Linked DNA regions of Homo sapiens: region 1 is linked to region 2. Evidence: fine-mapped expression QTL. A gene starts in region 2. The other region holds a variant in brackets. All regions are shown on one strand. Distances are between the middles of the regions. Region 1 holds the start of ZSCAN10 (zinc finger and SCAN domain containing 10). Region 2 holds the start of ZNF213-AS1 (ZNF213 antisense RNA 1).

The links. PIP is the estimated chance that this variant, and not a neighbour inherited with it, causes the effect.
Region 1: its variant is the best candidate, but not a certain one, in a credible set for the expression of ZNF213-AS1 in whole blood (INTERVAL, PIP 0.77).

The regions. Positions count from the first base shown.
Region 1 is chr16:3,091,818-3,100,186 of GRCh38, reverse strand. ZSCAN10 (zinc finger and SCAN domain containing 10) reads left to right here and starts at 893. Exons shown (of 6, transcript NM_032805.3): 1 at 893-997; 2 at 7,183-7,645; 3 at 7,871-8,138; 4 at 8,359-8,369. The coding sequence starts at 7,250. RefSeq lists enhancers at 91-140, 6,886-7,473 and silencers at 5,446-5,515, 7,007-7,200. The variant G/A (reference allele first, on the strand shown) is at 3,532.
Region 2 is chr16:3,131,678-3,139,898 of GRCh38, reverse strand. ZNF213-AS1 (ZNF213 antisense RNA 1) reads left to right here and starts at 5,017. Exons shown (of 6, transcript NR_110900.1): 1 at 5,017-5,269; 2 at 6,957-7,049; 3 at 7,796-7,880. It overlaps ZNF213 (zinc finger protein 213), which reads right to left and starts at 4,870. Exons shown (of 6, transcript NM_004220.3): 1 at 4,512-4,870; 2 at 2,220-2,733; 3 at 1,358-1,481; 4 at 1,081-1,154; 5 at 801-924. The coding sequence starts at 2,618. RefSeq lists enhancers at 935-1,435, 4,920-5,109, 5,120-5,289 and a silencer at 4,580-4,809.

The DNA.
Region 1 (8,369 bases), 40 kb after region 2:
GACGCGGGGAATGCAGAGCAGACCAAGGAGAAAGACCGTCGTACGAAGGGAGCACTAGACAACTGAAGTAGGAACAGGATGAGCTCAGGTGTTAAGTGCAGGAAAACAAAGACCCGTCAGATGAGCCAGTCAGGAGGGTCCTGGCCCCAACGGACCGAGGGGTCTAGGCCGGGGGAACGGCCAACACCTGAGAGGTGGTCCTGGCTCCCCGGGGGCTCAGAACGCTCAGGAAGGCACCAGCTGCAGCCAAGGGCACAACCCAAGAAGGCACCTTAAGCACAGGGATGGAATTAGTTTGGGGCCAAACGCTGTTGGTTAGGTCACTTCCCTCCCGGGGAGCCCTTGCTTCGTCATCGGTAAAGTTGGGACAAAAGCCACCTGGCAGGACTTGGGAGGACTTTAGGTGACCGTGTAGATGGAGCAAACTCTGCCCCATCACATCCTCCTCTTCCATTTTTTCCTAGCACCGTCGCTGCTCCTTTGCCCTAGAATGTAAGCCCCTGAGAGCAGGGCCTCATTCCTTCAGTTTCTCTCTGTGTCCTTAGCCCCTGCTTTGTAACAGTGCCTGGCACACAGGAGGCCATTGCAAAGAGTAGTCACGTGAATGAAAAGCCTAGCAAAGAAGCCAGCACACTGTGGGCATTTAAAAATGGCAGCTCTTAGCCCAAAGGAAAGACGGGCAGACCTGCAAGGGGCACCAGGCCAGTCTTGATTTGGGAGGTGGTTACACTCTCACACAGGCTGGGATTGAAATCTGGATTTCTCACTTTGTCTTCATGTCACTGGCCCCGCCCTCTTCCCATCCCGCTCCCAAACTGGGAGCTTAAGGGTTAACTCTAGGAAGCCCCTCATCACCTGGATGGGATGGGACTGGGGCAAGGAACTTCCTGTTCCATTTTCCCAGAGCCCTTCCCCAGGCTGGCGGAGGCTGGCTTTGGCCCTGGAGTCCTCAGAAAACCCCCCAGCATCTCTGCCTGTGTAGTGGGGACTCCGAGTGGTGAGTTGGAGGGAGGTCGGGGTGCAGGCTGCCAGGACGGGTGCTAGGAGCTCGCAGCAGCTTGGAGAGAGCAGGGGAGGCTCCAGGCCTTGGTGCTGGGGTGGGGGCTGGAAGAGTCTTGGGAGGATGTAGAGGGTCTGCTGGGGAGCCTCGTGCCAGCCAGCTTGGTGGACCTGTCGCGATGGGGGCGTTGGGGACGAGGGAGATCGCAGAACTTCCTGTGACATTGAAGAAGGCTGGCTTCACGTGCTCCCAGGTGGACTGATGGGCCTTGTCCACTCAGCCCAGCACGCGGAGGGAGGCCCCTCCAACAAACAACAAATCAGGCAGCTGCCAACTGTGTCCAGGGAGAAAGGGAGTGTTCCCGGCTGAGGACCCCACCTTTGCCGCCTTCCCCAACTCTGGGCTCTCAGGTGACCTGGGTGGGTCTCGTGGCAGCACCTCCACCCCGGGCTCCAAATTAAGCTGCTCAAATGTTGGATGGTGGCTGTAGAGCCTCTGCCTGCCTCCCTACCCAGCCCACCCCCAACAGAGGTGCATATTAACAGAGCTTTTGTCCTGGAGATCTGGGGGGAGGGAGAGATTCTCTGAAGCCAACTTGTCTCGAATTCCACCTCTTTGAAACCTTTTGGAGAGATCTCACCTGGAGATTCCGGCCTCCCTGTGTGGCTTGCCCTGAGAGCTGAAATTTGGAATCTTCATTTTTTTTCTGTTTCATGCTGTGATATTTCGGCTAAGGCTAGGAAAATGGCACAGAGCAGGATGGAGATCAGTTCCTTTTCTGTTTCAGAGCTTTGGCACTGTGTTCTAGACCTACACTCTCAGCCTAAAGCAAACCTTGGCTCCACCTGGTGTGACCCTGAGCATGTCACCAAGTGCAAAGCTTGGTCTTTGCACTTGGCAAAGGGAGAAGTGATTGTTTCGTGCGTGGGCTGGACTGGGATGAAATGAGCTTAATCGCCAGACACTCAGTACCTGCCCGCTGCTCCTGCACGGCAATGGATGAGCAGTGATTAGTTTTCTTGTTATTTTGTGCATGCTACTAAAAACCAGTGAAACGTAATCCCATTTTCTTCCCCCTCCCCCACTCTTTTTTTTTCTTTTCTTTTCTTTTCTTTCTTTCTTTCTTTTTTTTTTTTTTTTTTTTGAGACAGGGTCTTCGCCTTTTATCCAGGCTGGTGTGCAGTGGCGCGAACATGGCTCACTGCAGCTTTGACCCCCCAGGTTCAAGCAATCCTTCTGCCTTGGCCACCCAAAATGCTGGGATTATAAGCATGAGCCACCGCATCCGGCCTCACAACACCATTTTTCTGATCATTTATCACAGACTTTTTCTGTCCTAGACGTTGTTACATGCTTTCCTTCGAGATGGCCAGAATCACTGCCATTCCCTAATTTCTGCTAACAGACACTGAAGCAACTTCAAGTGCTGGATGAACACTCATTGAACTAGACACAGCTCCTACTCCCAGGCCAGGCAGAGAAATACGCTCATCTGTGATTGAGGCACTCCATCGCCCTAGTGGGGAGAGATGGGGTGGGAGGATGGGGGCTGCCTGGAGTGGATGCCAGAGGGCAGGAAAGCGTAGTTCCGGCTCGGGGGTGGTTACACTCTCACACATGCAGGGGTTGAAATCTGGATTTCTCACTTTGTCTTCGCTTATCTGGCCCCACCCTGTCCCCATCCACCTCCCAAACTGGGAGCTTGAGGGTTAACGCTAGGAAGCCCCTCAACACCTGGATGGGATGGGACTGGGGCAGGGAACTTCCCGTTCCATTTTGTCAGAGTCCTTCCCCAGGTGGCTGAGGTTGGGAGATGCAGGGGAGCCGGGGTAGGGGTGAGGGGCTTGGAAGATACTGTGTGTTGCAGGGAGGTTGGGAGAGATGGGTCATGTTCTAGAATCACCTCCCCTCCTTCTCAGCGGCTAAGCTTAAAATCCCCCATTCTGTACCACAACACCACCCCACCTGAGGAGGTTCAGGGAACCCTCAGGCTCATATTAAGGGGGTACAGCAAACTGTCCAAGGCTCTCAACTAGGCCATCGTTACCAGGGAGAGGCTGCCCAAGGCTGAGTTACTTTTTTTTTTTTTTGAGACAGATTCTCATTCTGTTGCCCAAGCTGGAGTGTAGTGATGCAATCTCAGCTCACTGCAACCTCTGCCTCCTGGGTTCAAGAGATTCTCCTGCCTCAGTCTCCCGAACAGCTGGGACCACAGATGCATGCCACCATGCCCGGATAATTTTTTTTTTTTTTTTTTTGAGGCAGAGTCTAATTCTGTCGCCCAGGCTGGAGTGCAGTGGCACGATCTCGTCTCACTGCAACCTCCGCCTCCCAGGTTCAAGCAATTCTCCTCTCTCAGCCTCCTGAGTAGCTGGGACTACAGGCGCATGCCATCACGTCCGGCTAATTTTTGTAATTTTAGTAGAGACAAGGGTTTCACCATATTGATCAGGCTGGTCTCGAACTCCTGACCTCAGGTGATCCATCCACCTCGGCCACCCACACTGCTGGGATTACAGGCCTGAGCCACT[G/A]CACTCGGCCACTGGGTTACCTTTTTGCTGAGCCTTAGTGTCCTCGGCTGTAGAATGGGTCAGTGATGGGCCCAACAGAACTGTGAGTCACTGTTTGCTGCGGTGCTTGGTGTTGTAATCAGCAGCAATGAGAACAGTAATAGCTCGTGCTCATGGATGCCTACTGTGTGCCAGCCACTGCATGCTGGACAGTGCCCTGTGCCATTCAGGTGAGTGGAGTGGTGCTTCAGGCTTTCTTCACATCCCCCTACCTGGGGTGCCAACTGGGAGTGGAGGGTGGGAGGCTCTAGGAGAGGTTCACTTGTAGCCCTGAGGCTAGAGAACAGGAAGGGCAGAAAGCAGAGGGCAGGAGCCTGGATTTCCATGTCTATAAAATGACCCCTGCCTGAAATAAAATGTAAAAGAGACTCAAACAAAAATATGAGCCTGCTCTGCTCTGCTCAGAAAAGCTTAAATCATCCAGCCTCAATTAGTTGAGCAGGGCTGAACTGAGTCCCCTGTGGGTGGGGCCGAAATTTCGGAGGTTCCCCATGGGTAGTACTGGGCTACCAGACCAGGAAGGGGAAGCCCCACAGCCCTAGATTGGGAGGAGGTTGGGGGAGGATGTCAGTGCCTCCTGGTGGCTATAGATGACTTATTTTATATTTTTTATTTTTTGAGACGGGCTGGCACTGTCGCCTAGGCTGGAGTGCAATGTTGCAGTCACAGCTCACTGCACTGCAGCCTCAACCTCCTGGGATCAAGCAATCTTCCCACCTCAGCCTCCCAGGTAGCTAGGACCACAGGTATACACAACCATGACTGGCTAAATTTTTTTTTTTTTTTTTTGAGATGGAGTCTGGCTCTGTCGCCCAGGCTGGAGTGCAGTGGCGCGATCTTGGCTCATTGCAAGCTCTACCTCCCTGTTTCACGCCATTCTCCTGCCTCAGCCTCCTGAGTAGCTGGGACCACAGGCACCCGCCACTGCGCCCGACTGATTTTTTTTATTTTTATTAGAGACGGGGTTTCACCGTGTTAACCAGGATGGTCTCGATCTCCTGACCTGGTGATCCACCCTCGGCCTCCCAAAGTGCTGGGATTACAGGCGTCAGCCACTCAGTGCCCCCAGCAACTGGCTAAATTTTTAATTTTTTTTTTTTTTGAGACGGAGTCTCGCTGTCGCCCAGGCTGGAGTGCAGTGGCATGATCTCGGCTCACTGCAAGCTCCGCCTCCGGGGTTCACGCCACTCTCCTGCCTCAGCCTCCCGAGTAGCTGGGACTACAGGTGCCCGCCACCACCCGTGGCTAATTTTTTGTATTTTTAGTAGAGACGGGGTTTCACCATGTTAGACAGGATGGTCTCGATCTCCTGACCTTGTGATCTGCCTGCGTCAGCCTCCCAAAGTGCTGGGATTACAGGTGTGAGCCACCACACCCTGCCCTACATTTTTAATTTTTTTAGAGACGGGGGTCGTGCCATGTTGCCCAGGGCTGGTCTTGAACTCCTGAGGCTCAAGTGATCCTCCTGCCTCAGCCTCCCAAAGTGCTGGGATAACAGGCGTGAGCCAGCCCCGCTAACCTTTCATTTTGAAAATTCGAAAACATCCAGAGAACTTGAAAGAGCAGTGAAATGAACATTCATATATGTATCTCATATATCAGGCCCCTTCTCCAAACTCTTCAGCGTCTTCTAAGAACTCAGCCATTTCCTATATATTACAAGACTAGACTTTCATCTCAGAAATGGGTAGTCATACTGTTATCATCTAGTATCCCCACCATACTCACCATTTTCCGACTGGCCCCAGGATGTCTTTTAAAGCCTTTAAGAAAAATGAATGAGGATCCAATCTAGGTTCACCCACTTAGTTGTGAGGACTCTTTGGGCTCCTGTCCACCAGCGCCTCCTACAGGCACTTACTTTTTATGACACTGAGTAACTCAGGCCAATTTCTTTGAGAGATGGTCTGACTTGTTCCATATTCCCTGCAAGGCCCTAAACATTGGAAGTTGGATCTAAAGGCCACCATTAGGTCGGGCGGGGTGGTTCATGCCTGTAATCCCAGTACTTTGGGAGACCGAAGCGGGCGGATCACCTGAGGTTAAGAGTTTGAGAGCAGCCTGGCCAACATGGTGAAACCCCATCTCTACTAAAAATACAAAATTAGCGGCATGCGGTGGCGCGTGCTTGTAATCCCAGCTACTCACGAAGCTGACGGACGAGAATCACCGGAACCCGCGAGGCGGAGGTTGCGGTGAGCCGAGATCTTGCCATTGCACTCCATCCTGGGCAACAAGAGTGAAACTCCATCTCAAATAAATAAATAAATAAAGGCTGGTTGGATTGAGATTAGGTATTTTTGGGCTAGGCACAGTGGCTCACGCCTGTAATTCCAGCACTTTGAGAGGCTGAGGCAGGTGGATCACTTGAGCCCAGGAGTTTGAGACCAGCCTGGGCAACATAATGAGAACTCGTGTCTACAAAAAATAAATAAAATTAACCCAGCATGGTGATATGCACCTGTAGTCCCAGCTACTCGGGAGGCTGACGCGGGAGGATCACTTGAGCCCAGCAGATCAAGGCTGCAGTGAGCCGTGATTGCGCCACTGCACTGCAGCCTGCGTGACAGAGTGAGACCCTGTCTCAAAAAAATAAATAAATTACTTAATTAAATTAAAAATTTAAAAAACAGGCTTGGTGCAGTGGTTCACGCCTTAATCTCAGCAATTTGGGAGACTGAGGTGGGCTGATCACTTGAGGTCAGGAGTTCAAGACCAGCCCAGCCAACATGGTGAAACTCTTGTGTCTACTAAAAATGCAAAAATTAGCTGGGCGTGCTGCCACAGGCCTGTAATCCCAGCTACTGTAAACCCAGGCTGAGGAATGAGAATCGCTTGAACCTGGGAGGTGGAGGCTGCAGAGAGCTGAGATCATGCCACTGCACTCCAGTCTGGGTGATATAGCAAGACTCCATCTCAAAAAAAAAAAGAAAAAAAAAAGCTTTAAAAAACAAACTTTTTTGGCCAGGATCCATCTTGATGGTGCCATGTGCTCCCAGTGGCTACATCAGGAAGAAGGGAAGGGCAGGGTGTTTCTCTTTCAGGGATGGTCACTTTAATCACTTGGGAAAAGTGATGCAAATTTCTTTTTTTTTTTTTTTTGATCTGAGTCTCGCTCTGTCACCCAGGCTGGAGTGCAGTGGCGCGATCTCGGCTCACTGTAAGCTCCGCCTCCCAGGTTCACACCATTCTCATGCCTCAGCCTCCCCAGCAGCTGGGACTAAATTAGCCTGGCTAATTGTTTTGTATTTTTAGTAGAGACGGGATTTCACCGCGTTAGCCAGGATGGTCTCGATATCCTGACCTCGTGATCCACCCGCCTCGGCCTCCCAAAGTGCTCGGATTACAGGTGTGAGCCACTGTGCCCGGCCAAGTGATGTAAATCTCTAAATGCTTTAAGGAGGGATGATAATACAGAACTGTCAGTTTTCTCTGGCCTTTGCTTTGTTGGTAACCCTGAGACCGGGGGCTGTCCTGCCCTCGTGAGCCATTACCCAGTGAGAAAAGCGATTCCTCTGGGTCTGCGTATTGGGTGTCTTTTAACATGGATGACCCAGGTATGGGGCCAGCTTCCTCGCAGCAGATCCTAACCCAGGGTGTTCACCTTCGCAGGTGTGGGAGGAGAGGAGAGAGACCCAAGAGCGGGGCTGGCGTTAGGGAGGCATCCCCGCAGTGAAGGATGCTTGGAGAATCAGTCCCAGCTGCCGTGGAGCAGGAGCAGCTGGGGGAAGTCAAGCTGGAGGAGGAGGAGGCTGTCAGCCCAGAGGACCCCAGGCGACCAGAGTCCAGGCTGAGGCCCGAGGTGGCTCACCAGCTGTTCAGATGCTTCCAGTATCAGGAGGACATGGGGCCACGGGCGTCCCTGAGCCGGCTCCGGGAGCTCTGCGGCCACTGGCTGCGGCCGGCTCTGCACACCAAGAAACAGATCCTGGAGCTGCTGGTGCTGGAGCAGTTCCTGAGTGTGCTGCCTCCGCACCTCCTGGGCCGCCTGCAGGGGCAGCCGCTCAGGGATGGGGAGGAGGTGGTGCTGCTGCTCGAGGGCATCCACCGGGAGCCCAGCCACGCGGGGCCGCTGGTGAGAGGGTGGGGCAGCGGGCTGAGCAGCATGCGGATGATGGGGACTTGATCCCCCCAGTGAGGAATCTCTGGAAACTTCACTTTCCCCCACCTGACCATTCCTTCTTCACCTCCTAACTCCTCCCCTGGCTGACTCTAACCTCGTTTCTGTCCCATGTCCCCTCGGAGTCAGGACACAGGTTGCCACCCCGGGAGTCACTTAACTTGAATGTGTTTTGAACAGGATTTTAGTTGTAATGCTGGCAAGAGTTGTCCCCGTGCAGACGTCACCTTGGAGGAAAAGGGGTGTGCTTCCCAGGTCCCCAGCCACAGCCCCAAGAAGGAATTGCCTGCGGAAGAGCCTTCAGTGCTGGGCCCATCGGATGAGCCTCCCCGACCCCAGCCAAGGGCTGCCCAGCCTGCTGAGCCGGGACAGTGGAGGCTTCCCCCAAGTTCAAAGCAGCCGCTGAGCCCGGGGCCCCAGAAGACATTCCAGGCCCTGCAAGAAAGCAGTGAGGAGCTTGTGCCCTAGGAGGCCAAGGACTGGGTGTCGCGGAGGGGCCTGGATGTCTGGGGTGGGGTGAGAAGTGGGGCCTCCCCAGGTGACCAGGACAGGAGAGCGCCAAGGTGTCTTCACAGGGCCCGGATGATGCGGTGTGTGTCCTTGCAGCCATATGGCAGGCAGGGCTGCCTTCTAACAGCACTTCCTCCCCTCTTCCCCAATGCCGTCAGGTCCCCAGGGC
Region 2 (8,221 bases):
CATGGTGGCTCATGCCTGTAATCCCAGCTACTCAGGCTGAGGCAGGAGAATTGCTTGAACCCGGGAGGTGGAAGTTTCAGTGAGCTGAGATCACACCACTGCATTCCGGCCTGGCGACAGAGCAAGACTCCATCTCAAAAAAAAAAAAAAGAAAGAAAATTTTTCCCAACCGTCACAGTCGGAAACTGAGGAGCCAAACTGGTCTAGCTAGTGTGGCTCCCTTCACCACGCAGGCTCTAGTTCTCCAAACTCAACACAGATCTGGACAGAGGTCGCAGCCCATCCTCCTGGGAGTGTGACTGAACAAGATGATCCCTGATGGTGCTGAGAAGGGGCCTGGCATGGAGAGGAACCTGGTAAGTGCAGTTCTGACGAGCAGGGGCCCAGGCTGGTGAGCAGCTGGGGTTCCCCGTCAGCACCCCTGCTCCTAGCAGCCCAAGGTGGCCTCACAACTGTGCCTGATCCAAGTCCCAGCTGTGTCCCTTCAGCATCCACTGACCTGAGTCTCAGGTCCCTTATGCGTAAAATGGGGACAATACTTCCATGCACTAGGTTGTGAGACTCAAAGGAGAAGTTGCCCTTAGAGCAACTGCAGGGCTGGGCAGCGCCGGCGCCGTCCCATGCTGCATGTGGAAACGCACAAAAACTGATCATCAGCCAAGAAAGGAGTTACTCAGGCTCCTGGCAAGACCTAGGGAGAGCCTGCTTTGGAACCAGCTAAGGATGGGGTGGGAAACAAGACTGAAGTTCCAGCAGAATCGGGGGCGGCCAGCCTGGACCCAAAGGCCCTGGGTGCTTACCCAGGGTGGTGTTCCGGGAGTTCTCCCGCTTTATGTCCCAGAAGAGATCCCGCTGAGCAGGGTCCAGGGTGCCCCATTCTTCCCGGGAGAAATAGAATGGGATGTCTCCCAATGCCACAGGTCCCTGGAATGGGGTGAGAAGACCCGGCTCAGGCCTCCCAGCAGCACTGGCGGGGACAGGATGGGTCAGATGAAAGAGGCCTGATGGGACAGCAAGTCCCATTTTACAAACTCAACAGGGCCAAGTGCCTTAAAGAAGACAAAGGGACTGGTGACTCACATGGACCCCAGAGACAAAGCAGGTGTCCGTCGTCTCTCCGGGACGACCCTCTTTAAGAAGAGCAGGAGGCTGGGCTGAAGGAGAAGAATGGAGCCTTAGAAAGGCCAGCCCAGGCTTGACACCGACGCCTATGGCCTCCCCAGCCTGTGCGCATGCACACACGCCCTGGACTTCACAGAGGGAGCTGTCCTGCCTGTGACCCTTAGGGCAACGCCGGTGACAAAGCTAGGTCCCTGCCCAGCCACTCGACTGTCCACAAGAACGGAGGCTTACTCACCGCTATGGCTGTGCTGCTCCTGGGGAACAGACGGCCGCCTCCGTGCCCCCACCGTCGGGGGAGGCCCCGTGGCCTGGGATCCCCGGCCTGCAGCCTCGGGTTCCGCCTCCTCCGAGGGCACATCCTGTGCAGGAACCACAACATGCTCATCAGCCCGAGACCAGACCGGGGGAGACAGAGTTTACTCCCTGGGAAGGAGACACAGGACATGACCCTCAGGATGCTGGGGTGTGGGAAGGAGACCAATATGGTGCCCCAGGAAAAGTCCGGAGGAGAATGTGATACCAGGTAATGCTGTGTGCCCAAGGATGCTCCCCGATCATTCACGAGGCAAGAACCAGCCCTGAAAGGCCAGAATCACAGCCACTTAGCAAGGGGGTAGCTGGGGACCCTCCTGCCAAAGGCAGAACCCCATCCCCCAGCCACTCATTAGAACCTCCCCAGATGCATCCAATGTGAAGGACCCAACATCCCACAAGGTAGCAGAGGCCCCGGACAGCTCCACCTTCTCGCCCCACTCTGGAGCTGGCTCTATGCACACCCTTGTGTCCCCAGAGCCAGGCCTAGAGCAAAATGCAAATAAACATCAGCAGACCCTGCATGGAGCTAAAACCTCCTGTCTGGAACATTCGCACTTCAGCCCTATTGCTGCCTTCCAAAGCCACAAAAAATAAATCACATTTACTTTGGATCGCATCTTTCAGAAAGGCACCCATGGCACACTGTGCTTGTGTGCCTGCTCCTGGGGGCTCTGTGTCTCCCCTACCCTGTGAGCCTCTGGGAGACTTATCTCTGCAGGTTACCCACTTCTCTCGAGCTCAGATACCATCCAGGTGCCCCTGGATGTGGAAGGGCCCCTCACCTGTCGCCAGGCTTTCACTGGCTGCTTCTGTAGGTCCTCCACCAAGGCGACAGCCTCCTCACCGCTTCCCGGGTGCTGCTCACGCACCCAGCCCTGGATCTCCCCTGGCAGCACTGTCAGGAACTGCTCCAGCACCAGCAGCTCCAGGATCTGCTCCTTGGTACGCAGCTCGGGCCGCAGCCAGCGGCAGCAGAGCTCCCAGAGCTGGCTGAAGGCCTCATGAGGCCCATGCACATCCCCGTAGCAGAATTGCCGGAAGCGCTGGCGGCAGGCTTCGGAATCCCTGCCATCCTCATGCTGGGCAGATTCCTGTTCCCAGGAGGAATCTTCCACTTTCACAATCAGAAGCCCTTCTCCCTCCCCAGGGGCCTGGTCCTGGGCCTCCAAGGGGGCTGCCATTCCCCTGGCCTGAGGCTCAGGGTTGGTCGGCTTCAACCTGGGCCCCAGAACCTGTACTTTCAGTCTCCCAGAGGGATCCCCTGTGGTAGCTGGGCTGGCATCTGGATGTGTACTCCTGGGGAAAGAGCAAAATGGCAGGACTGAGGAGGAAGGATGTGGAATACACGAGCAAACCCCAGGCTGAAGAGCCATCCAGTCCCCATCCTTTCATGGCCCTGAAGCCTTTTCTAGGCTTTACTGTAATGCCTTGCTCATGTGACTGTCTCTCCTATTAACACAGGCCCACAAGCTCTCATCCCAAAGCCAGAAATCCAAAACCCGGGTGTTTCATAACTCTTTGACAGCAAAACCCAATGTCATTCATTTGGCAGCACCACCTGACCTGATATAAGCATATTTATAATCTCAATTTATTCCACTAAATGTAAATGTTCAAAATTATGGTGGAAATATTAATAACATATATCTTCAGTTTATAAAATTTCATTGAGCTATACCCACTCGTGTGTTTTTCTGTATTGCACATTATACATCAATTAAATATCTTTTTTTTTTTTTTTTACTGAGAGAGAGTCTCACTCTGTCGCCCAGGCTGGAGTGCAGTGGCGCAATCTCAGTTCACTGCAACCTCTGCCTGCCAGGTTCAAGCGATTCTCCTGCTTCAGCCTCCCAAGTAGCTGGGACTACAGGCACCAGCTACCACGTCCAGCTAATTTTTTGTATTTTTAGTAGAGACGAGGTTTCACCATGTTGGCCAGGATGGTCTCAAACTCCTGACCTTGTGATCCACCCGCCTCGGCCTCCTAAAGTGCTGGGATTACAGGCGTGAGCCACTGCGCCCGGCCTAATTAAAAAATTTTAACTGATATGTTTCATTATTTAGTGTTGCCCCAGATCCCTCTGGAGATGTGCTTGATATATCGTCTGTGCACTATATTATCTTTCTCAAATTTGAAAACCTCTGAATTCCAAAACACATCTGGCCCTGAGGTGTCACAGAAGGGCTTACAGACACCATCCAAAGCCATTTATCCACAGGTACATATAAATGTATGACACATTTATACCTTACATTGTTACTCTCTACTGAAAAGTGTATTATGCAATTTTCAGTAATCGATTTTTTGTTTCAACAATAAAAATACAAACTGGCCGGGCTTGGTGGCTTATGCCTGTAATCCCAGCATTTTGGGAGACAGACACAGGATGATTGCTTGAGGCCAGGGGTTCAAGACCCCTTTGGGAAGACAATGTGAGACGCCATCTGTACCAAAAAACAAAAAAAGCCAGGTGGGGCTCCTGTAGTCCCAGCTACTGGGGAGGCTGAGGAGGAAAGATTGCTTGAGTCCAGGAGTTTGAGGTTGCAATGAGCTATGATCGCACCACTGTACTCCAGCCTGGGCAACAGAGTGAGACCATCTCAAAAAAAAAAAAAAAAGAAAGAAAAGAAAAGTAAAAAGAAAATGAAAAAAATACAAACCATCTTAATAAAAAAGGGAAGATTCAAACAATATAGAAATCTGTAAAACTCTCCCTTCCTCAATACCATTGTACCCCCCGACTTAACAGTCTGACAAATGACGTCCCAGACCTTTTCCTGTGCTTTTACTAAAAAAGTCATCCATAGCGGGGAGAAAAGGTGCTTGATGTGTTTCTACATAAATGAGACCTTACTGCACAGACATTAGCGGCACTATGAGCTTCCGCGGTATGGATATGCTCTAGTTTCTTAATCAATACTCGAGTGATGCATTCGGGTTGTTTCCAATTCTTTAGTCCATCCTAAGCACTTTATTTATTCTGCTCCTCACAAGACCCCTGAAAGGTGCGCGCACCATTCTCATCCTCTGGTGACTTCGAAGAAGACTTTCCTCGAAGAGGGCCAGGACTCACCAGGGTCGCTCAGCAGGACACGGCAGGCGGGAAGGCGAGCCAGCCGGAGCCCCGCGCTGTCCACCGCAGCCTCGCCCGCGGGGCGAGCGGCGATCGTACAGGGGCGTCTGCCGGGGGACCAAGCTGGCAGAGCGGCGCGGGGGACCAGCACTTCCTAGCAGTGCGCGCGCCCTCCGGCCTCTGCCTCGGGGCGCTGATCCCGGCCACTCGGAGCCCGGTGCTTGATGTTGGAGCCAGGCGGCCAGAGGCCCCGTCCCCGCCCCGGCCCCCGCCCCCGCCCCCGCCCCCGAAACACACAACGCCCACTACGGCCCAGGAGATCCCACTTCCGCCGCGAGCTCCCGGCGCCGGAAGTCCTCGCGGGGCTCGCTGGGAAACTACGCTACGCAAGCATTCCCCAGCTCCCAGAAAGCCGTTCGTCCACTGAGCCCGCCTTCTCCATGACCGATGGCCAATGAACAGGAAGAATTCTCAGGCTGCCTATTAGAAGACAGAAACTCCATACGCGTCATACACCTGCACCCGGGAGGAAAGGCGAGGCTCTGCATCTAGATTTACCTCGTTCTCTTTTGTCTCCGCTTTTTTTTCACATTTCCTTGCGACCCTGGCCCTTGAGCGACAAAAAGGGGAAGCCAAGGCTGGCCCGAGGAACGGAGAGGGCACATGGCCTAGCCACAAGTGGAGCTTCTGCTCCGCCCGAAGGGATGCGCTGGAGCGGCCTCTTCCTTCTGCCACGGTCTTTCTTTGCCAACTAGTAGGTGAGGGCCGAAAGGCCGCGGGCCGTGGAGCTCGGGCCGGGGAGACTCTTTTCTAGCCTCTTGGGTCCCGCTCCTCCCAATTCCCTGGAGAGGCGTCGAGCTTGCTGGGAAGTGCCCTCGGGTAAGGGGCGCGGAGCCTCCTGCGGCGATCCTCTGTCTTCGGGTCGCCTTAGCAGGACGCGGCAAGCGGGACACTGACCTGGCCGGAGTCCCGCGTTCTCTCACCAGCTGCTTTGTCCACGAGTTGCTGCTGGGCGTCAGGGGTCCCACGGCCCGGAGGGATCTAGAGCAGGGGGGCTCGGGGTCCTTTCCATACCCTCGGATCCTCTCCCACTCTCTCCACGCCTCGACCCGGAGATGATTTCAGGCTCCAGATCTCTTTCATAAATGGAAAGAGTTTTTTTGGTTTGTTTTGTCTTAATTATGTAGGTGTTGCATGCTTGGAAGAGAAAATTTAGAAAATTAATTGGAAAACCATAAAGATAGCTTTCTCGTGATAGCCACAAGGCTTGCTCCCTCATTCTGCTCATATGTCACCCCCTCAAGGAGGCCTTCCCCAGCTCTGTAAACAACCTGTGCTCGGCGTTAACTTTTCTCCCTAATGTTTATCACTACCTGACATATACGTGTTTCCCACGACTCAACGATAAGTGTTCATGAGGGCAGACACTTTTTAATGCCCTATGACAAGCACCTAGAATTGTGCCTGGCACATGGTAGATGCTTAGTAAATATTTGTTTAATGAATGAAGGTAAAAAACATTTCTAATACGACCATCCAGGAATAAGTACTATTCATGTTTTAGTGTGTTCTTACAGTTTTACTGTTCAGACAGTTATATGCCTGTGAATATATATTATATATGTGTGTATATATATATATATATATATATATATATTTTTTTTTTTTTTTTGAGACAGAGTCTCGCTCTGTCACCCAGGCTGGACTGCAGTGGCGCGATCTTGGCTCACTGCAACCTCCGCCTCCTGGATTCAAGCGATTCTTCTGCCTCAGCCTCCCGAGTAGCTAGGATTACAGGCATGTGTCACCACGCCCGGCTAATTTTGTATTTTTAGTAGAGACGGGGTTTCTCCGTGTTGGTCAGGCTGGTCTCGAACTCCTGACCTCAGGTGATCTGCCCGCCTCGGCCTCCCAAAGTGCTGAGATTACAGACGTGAGCCACCGTGCCTGGCGGAATTTTCATATTTTAAGTCCCCCACCCTTGGACATTTAGATTTTTTCCATCTTTCTGTATTTGCAGATATGCTTCTACGTACACCTTTATTCATTTGCTTGAACATTTCCCTGAGAAAAACTAGAAATGGAATTGCCAGATTACTTTGTGTACATGTTTCCAAACTGTCCTCCAGAAAGAATGTAATGCTTTGAACTTCCACTTGAGAATCAAATGTTTACCTTCCTCTGTTCCTCCAGATTTGGACATTTACAGTGTTCAGCCGTTGTTGTGGCATTCCAATTCAATTGGGAAACAGCTTGATGTAGCGTCCCCATAAGGTCCACAGTAATTAAATTTTTTTTTTTTTTTTTTGGTGCGGTAGTGCAATTTCATGGCTCACTGCAACCTCCACCTCCCAGGTTCAAGCGATCCTCCCATCTCAGCCTCCCTAGTAGCTGGGATTACAGGTGCACGCCACCACACCAGGCTAATTTTTGTATTTTTAGTAGAGATGGGGTTTCACCAGGTTAGCCAGGCTGGTCTTGAACTCCAGACCTCAAGGGATCCGCCTGCCTCAGCTTTCCAAAGTGCTGGGATTACAGGTGAGAACCACTGCACCCATCCTATTAAACTTTTAAATCATGATAGTTACCATGTATAGAGTGTTTATATGCCAGGCATTGAGCTAAGTCTTTTACGTCTTGCGCTCATTCTGTGCAACAGCCCAATGGGAGAAATTCCATGAATATAGTTACCATTTCCTTGATTTCTAGAGAAGCTGGATATGTTTTCTTTTTTTCCAGTATTATTTCTATTTATCCTTTTGTGAATTGTCTGTTGTTATTTTCATTGGAATATTCTCTTTTTTTGACAGAGTCTCACTCTGTTGCCCAGGCTGGAGTGCAATGGCACGATCTCGGCTCATTGCAAACCTCTGCCTCCTGGGTTCAAGCAATTCTCCTGCCTCAGCCTCCCAAGTAGCTGGGATTACAGGCACCCGCCACCACGCCCAGCTAATTTTTTGTATTTTTAGTAGAGACGGGGTTTTGCCATGTTGGCCAGGCTGGTCTCGAACTCCTGACCTCAGGTGATCCACCCATTTCGGCCTCCCAAAGTACTGGGATTACAGGCGTGAGCACCTGTGCCCGGCCACACCATTATTTTGAAGAGAAAATTTGATAAAAATAATTGGTCAGTTGTAAAGATGGTTAACTACCCAACTGGTAAGAGAGATTTCTAAGAGTTACAGAATAGCAACTGCAGGAAGGAACTTGTGCCCTTAGGACTGAGGAAGTAAAAAGGAGGGAAACTTGGAAACACGAAAGAGCCCTTCCCCTTTCAATTCAAGGTGGAGACTGGACCTCAGAAGAGGGAGTGGGTGCCCCGAGAACTCACAGCTAGCGGACAGTGGAAAGGGCAGGAGCCGGACCAAGGTGAGGACAGTGGAACTGAAGGCCGCTGGTTACCTCTCCTGCCCTCCGCTGGCCACAGTGGAGAAGACAGCCCCTCCCTCCTGCTCTGACCTGACAGTGTTCATCCATCGCCCTGTATTAGCGAAGAACAACATCAAGCTGGCTAGCAAGGAACTGTATACAGGGTCCAGCTGGGTATCACACTGGATCTCACCCAAAGCTTAGATGTGATCCAGCTCAGTATCACAAAGCAGAACGAAAAGGATGTGTTTGGGCTGAGAGGCCATACATTGGTAAGTGGCACATGAACTGTATTTTCTATTGAGCATTGCTGGTATATGGCAAATTTGCATAAAATTATA